Regions from separate parts of the Homo sapiens genome. Here region 2 is linked to region 1. A link means that fine-mapping ties the variant in region 1 to the plasma level of a protein whose gene starts in the linked region. Region 1 holds a variant in brackets. A gene starts in the other region. All regions are shown on their reverse strands.

Region 1 (2,911 bases):
TGTTTGCCCAAGTGCCCCTAAGCATGGAACTCCTAATGAGGTGTCTCTTATAATGGTGGCTCCTTTAGAACGGAACTGACTAGAAGGAAATATCCTTAATGAAGGATAAGCATCCCGGGAAGACATCGAAGCCAAAAAAGAAACATTCTGTAAACTCCAACCACTGAGTCCAAATTGACACAGACCAAGGCCACACCCTCACAGTGTACATTCTAGTGGAAGAGGTAGACAATAAGTAAATAAGAAATGTGTGAAAAATAGAAAGAAAAATAGGCCAATAGGTCGGGCACGGTGGCTCATGCCTGTAATCCCAGCACTTCGGGAGGCTGAGGCGGGTAGATCACCTGAGTTCAGGAGTTCGAGACCAGCCTGGCCACCCTGGCCAACACGGCGAAACCCCACCTCCACTAAAAATACAAAAAATTAGCTGGGTGTGGTGGTGGGCGCCTGTAATCCCAGGTACTCAGGAGGCTGAGGCAGGAAAATTGCTTGAACCCGTGAGGTGGAAGTTGCAGTGAGCCGAGATCGTATCACTGCACTCCAGCCTGGGCGACAGAGCGAAACTCCATCTCTGAAAAAAACCCCCCCAAAAAACAAAAACAAAAACAAAAGTTGGGGGACAGGCATCAGGCTGTGTGGCTCAGCATCAGAGTACCTTGTGCTGTTTCCCTGCAGAGTTTCCAGATAAATATCAGACCACACTGGAGAGAAATCTCTCCTACCAGCCATTCCAGAATGCCCATGGGAACATGAATCCTGAAGAAAAGTCGAAATCTAACACACTCTGCAAACCACCCTGTTATGAAATCAGAAGAGACCAAAATAGCTGAGAGCTAAACGAGTTCCTTTACCATTTGAAATAGGCAGAAGAAAGAACTTCTTGACTGTAAAGATGATGAAAATTCAGAATAGGCTGCCAGGGAAGATGGGAGACTTTTTTCTTGAAGGAAAGATTACTCTGCAACACTCATGGTTCAAATGTGATTCAGGTGGGAGGCAACCCTGAGCAAGATCAGTTCATACTTGTCCCCAAGATCAGAAACATCTGCTATATCACTTTTTAAAATGTTTTTATGGAGATTCTCAAGCATATAGAAGAATAAAATGATAATAACACATAGACCCATCATCAAGAACCAAAATTTTTAACACTCCACCATATTGGAGTGTTCTGTTTTGTTTTTTGAGACAGAATCTCACTCTGCAAACTTGACCTCCTGGACTCAAGTGATATTCCTATCTCAGCCTCCCCGAGTAGTTGGGACTCCAGGTGCATGCCCCATGCCTGGCTAATTTTTGTATTTTTTGTAGAGACGAAATTTTGCTATGTTGCCCGGTCTGGTCTCGAACTCCTGGGCTCAAGCAATACACTTGTCTCAGCCTCCCAAAGTGCCGGGATTATAGGCGTGAGCCACTGTGCCCGACTGTATTTGTTTTATCTAGATAATGGGTAGACAGATAATAAATAGGTATTGCAAGTCACTTGAAAGACACCATGACACTCACTTCTAAATATTATAATTATCCATCTCCTTAAAATAAAGACATTCTCTACATAATCACAGTTATTACTACTAAGAAAATTATCGATAATTTTCTGATAGCTACTCCATTTCCAAGTCTCACCAATTGTTTCAAAAGTATCTGTCAATGACCTATTTAGATGATAGCTGCAATATGTTTGCCTTGTTTGGGTAGAGACTTTAAATTCCATTTAGTTTTAGATTTACATATAGATGCCAGCATTGAAAATATACCAAAATGTAATA[T/C]AGTCATGATTACAAATGCAATAGTTAGGACTAATAAACTATTCATCAACTGAGAGAGACACATAGAAATGTAAGAAAATGAAATAGAAAAAAAAAAAAGACTGAGCCTGAAGACGTTGATTCATTTATTCAGCAAGTAGACTTGCCCTTGGGCATGTGGTGATGTGCAAGACAGACATGGTCCCTGGGTTCTGGGGTCAGCAGAGCCAGGAGAGGAGGAGTCAAAATGAAAGAGAAACAGCTACCAAGGAATGAGAATCTTCATTGTCTCTGAATGTATTTAGTTTGGTGCAGAAGTAACGCACAATTACTTTTGAACGAACCTAAATACATGCAGAGCCTAGGAAGATTCATAGTAAAGTGACTGTGGAATGCATTTAGGTAAAAGTATAGTAACTATTTACTACAGTAGTAAGGTAAGTATAGTTGTATTTAAGTAAGTATCTACGTTAGTATTTAGGTAAGTATAAACTAATTGCAGTATTTAGGTTGGTGCAAAAGTTATTGCGGTGTTTGCCATTACTTTTAATTCTCCCCTTCTTGAAAAAGTATTGAAAAAGACATTCTTGGAAAAGTCTTCTGGGCCGGGCGTGGTGACTCACGCCTGTAATCCCAGCACTTTGGGAGGCTGAGGCGGGCAGCGGATCACGAGGTCAGGAGATAGAGACCATCCTGGCTACCGCGGTGAAACCCCGTCTCTACTAAAAATACAAAAAATTAGCCGGGCATGGTGGTGGGTGCCTGTAGTCCCAGCTACTCAGGAGGCTGAGGCAGGAGAATGGCGTGAACCCGGGAGGCGGAGCTTGCAGTGAGCCGAGATCGCGCCACTGCACTCCAGCCTGGGCAGCACAGCGAGACTCCATCTCAAAAAAAAAAAAGAAAGAAAAAGTCTTCTGGATATAAGATTTTAAAGTTGACTTAGTCATTGTTTACAGGGACATTTGCAGGGAGGTAACCTGCATACTGGGATTAACAGCATCAAGGAGATGGCTGCTGGATGTCCCTAGTCAGTAGACAGATAAGAAGAGTTACTGGACGACCAGTGAAATTCATCTTGGATAGAAGCCCTGTGGCCCAAATAGAAGAGATAGGGGAATACCCGTTCAAAGAGTGAATGGCTTTTTTCATATGTGTGTGGAGCA
Region 2 (2,911 bases), not on the chromosome of region 1:
AGGAGAATCGCTTGAACCAGGGAGTCAGAGGTTGCAGTGAGCCGGGATCGCGCCACTGCACTCCAGCCTGGCGACAGAGAGAGACTCCGTCTCAAATAATAATAATAATAATAATAATAATAATCATCATCATCATCATCATCATCATCATCATCTGTTGAATTCAGGTGCACATTTCTTCTCTCAAGAAATCCTGCCCATCGCTGAAGGTGCACACCCCAGGGCTGGTGTCCTCGTTCCATGACACCTGTTCACCTGGACCCCTGGAAGCAGAGCCTGCAGGAGCAAAGCCCCAGGGCTGACAGACCCCGCCTGCTGTGCAGTAACCAGGGGAAGTGTGGCTGAGTAAGATACGGGTGGTGAAGAAACCCATTCTGATACCCAGATAGCTGCAACAAAGGGAGAAGTGTGTGCCCTTTTCAAATTGACCCTTTCCCTTCTGACATTTCTCCCTTCCAAACCCCACAGTACAACAGTTACAGCCTCAGTTTCCCAGGCCTCCTGCGAGCCAGGCTTCCCCCCGCCCCCCGTCCTTCGTGTGTATCAACATGCAGAATCCTCACCTCCACAGCCCCGTGTCCCTCTGCTCAGGCCTCCTGAGACTGAACCCCTGACCTAGGGGAGAACGACCCCACCTTGCCTGTGCCCCCCACTGAAGCTCCCGTCCTGGGGAGCTCAGACGTCAGGAGCCTCCGTGTCTCCCCTCTGCACAGTGACTCCTTGAGGACAGTGTCTGGCTCTGCTCTGTTGACCTCGTTGTGTAAAGAGGAGGTGCCCACTTCGTTGCTGCTGAGAGAGGGAGGAGAGGCTGCCTGCTCACCTCACCTGCACCCCAGTCTCTCATGGCCCTGAGTTCCACCTTTGGCTGGTATGACCTCCACAAACAGTGACAGCCCCGGGGGTGATTCAGGGGTCTGGCCAGATGGGACCCAATTTCACCTTGCAGAAAATGTTACCCAAATGGAAGGGCAAGTCCGGGAAGCAAGAAAGAGGTTGGGCCCTGCATAGGGTGGGAATCTGGATGAGTTTCTCACCCTCTCTGGCCTCAGGGTTCCCAGGAGTGGAAATGGGGTGGTGGACAGTGGATCTCCCAGGACTGACCCGGCCCTGACAGTGTCTGTGTGTGAAGTTCCTCCTCTGAGGAGGTCACTTTTCTGACTTCACCCCCAACCTCCTGCGGGACCTCCCCTAAGTCTTGAGACCTCAGTTTCTGAGAGAAGAACCCTGAGGAACAGACGTTCCCTGGCGGCCCTGGCGCCTTCAAACCCAGACATGCTGCTGCTGCTGCTGCTGCTGCCCCTGCTCTGGGGGACAAAGGGGATGGAGGGAGACAGACAATATGGGGATGGTTACTTGCTGCAAGTGCAGGAGCTGGTGACGGTGCAGGAGGGCCTGTGTGTCCATGTGCCCTGCTCCTTCTCCTACCCCCAGGATGGCTGGACTGACTCTGACCCAGTTCATGGCTACTGGTTCCGGGCAGGAGACAGACCATACCAAGACGCTCCAGTGGCCACAAACAACCCAGACAGAGAAGTGCAGGCAGAGACCCAGGGCCGATTCCAACTCCTTGGGGACATTTGGAGCAACGACTGCTCCCTGAGCATCAGAGACGCCAGGAAGAGGGATAAGGGGTCATATTTCTTTCGGCTAGAGAGAGGAAGCATGAAATGGAGTTACAAATCACAGTTGAATTACAAAACTAAGCAGCTGTCTGTGTTTGTGACAGGTAAGGCACGGGCTCCAGCACAGGCCACAGGGGAAGGTCATGAGGGGCTGAAAGGCAGGGCTGGGATGGGGCCTGGGAGGGGGTTGGGATTGAAATAAGTCGGTCTCCGGGGAGGAGCTGGACCAGAGCTTGAGCTTCCTCCAGGGCTGCACCTGAAATACCTCCTCCTGATCCTGTGTCCCCATCTTCACCAGCCCTGACCCATAGGCCTGACATCCTCATCCTAGGGACCCTAGAGTCTGGCCACTCCAGGAACCTGACCTGCTCTGTGCCCTGGGCCTGTAAGCAGGGGACACCCCCCATGATCTCCTGGATTGGGGCCTCCGTGTCCTCCCCGGGCCCCACTACTGCCCGCTCCTCAGTGCTCACCCTTACCCCAAAGCCCCAGGACCACGGCACCAGCCTCACCTGTCAGGTGACCTTGCCTGGGACAGGTGTGACCACGACCAGTACCGTCCGCCTCGATGTGTCCTGTGAGTGCTGGACCAAGATGCCCAGGTCCCTCATGGGTTGGGAGGTGTTCCTGAGGGCAGGGGATGGGGTTCAAGCCTGGACACTGGGTTCTGGGTCCCAGAATCTGGGCTGGGAGTGGGGTCAGGAGAATGCCGACTCCATTTTCCCTGTATTTGCAGCTCCTGGGAAGACAGGGCCAATGTCCCCAGTCCTTATAGTAATGTGGGTCTTCATGTCTTTCTGTCCCAGACCCTCCTTGGAACTTGACCATGACTGTCTTCCAAGGAGATGCCACAGGTAGGACAGAGCCCCCTCCCTGGGGTTGGGGGAGCAGGGCCTTCAGCTCAGGATGGGGCTGGGTCTCTCCTCATCCTGGAATCACTTTGGGAAACAGAGCTGCCACTGTGCGTGAGCCCAGGGCACAAGAGCCCACATCTCCAGCCCGCGTGACCATCTGAGCCCCTGTCCCCATCCTGTCCCTGCTCCCCTTAGACTCCTCCACACACCCCTTCCTTGGCCCCACAGCAAGGACAGGGTGACATTCACACAGCTGGATCAGACTCCCAATTTTTTTGGTTTTTGTTCGTTTTTATTTTGGGACCAGACTTTCAAGTTTCTTGTCAGGCATCTCCTGAATACTTCCTCTGTCTGATCTTTCTGTTTTCCCAGTAGTTTCGATCTAAGTACTTCTGCCCAGATGATACAGTCACATGGGCAGAAATTCAAAATGCA

Alleles and levels. Alleles are on the strand shown, and positions count from the first base shown. The strength of an association depends on the size of the effect and on how common the allele is.
In carriers of allele T in region 1, the plasma level of the protein whose gene starts at base 1,206 in region 2 tends to be lower than with C alone (moderate association).

What was found. PIP is the posterior inclusion probability: the model's chance that the variant is causal. The UK Biobank Pharma Proteomics Project read protein levels with antibody pairs (Olink). The fine-mapping took linkage between variants from a reference panel, not from the people measured, so its PIPs are less certain.
Region 2: SIGLEC8 starts here. The variant in region 1 is fine-mapped to the plasma level of the SIGLEC8 protein (UK Biobank, PIP 0.98).

The regions. Positions count from the first base shown.
Region 1 is chr10:15,480,219-15,483,129 of GRCh38, reverse strand. No RefSeq gene overlaps it. Among named protein-coding and RNA genes, the nearest start is that of FAM171A1, 110 kb to the right of the region's middle. The variant T/C (reference allele first, on the strand shown) is at 1,770.
Region 2 is chr19:51,456,749-51,459,659 of GRCh38, reverse strand. SIGLEC8 (sialic acid binding Ig like lectin 8) reads left to right here and starts at 1,206. Exons shown (of 7, transcript NM_014442.3): 1 at 1,206-1,726; 2 at 1,921-2,199; 3 at 2,429-2,476. The coding sequence starts at 1,273.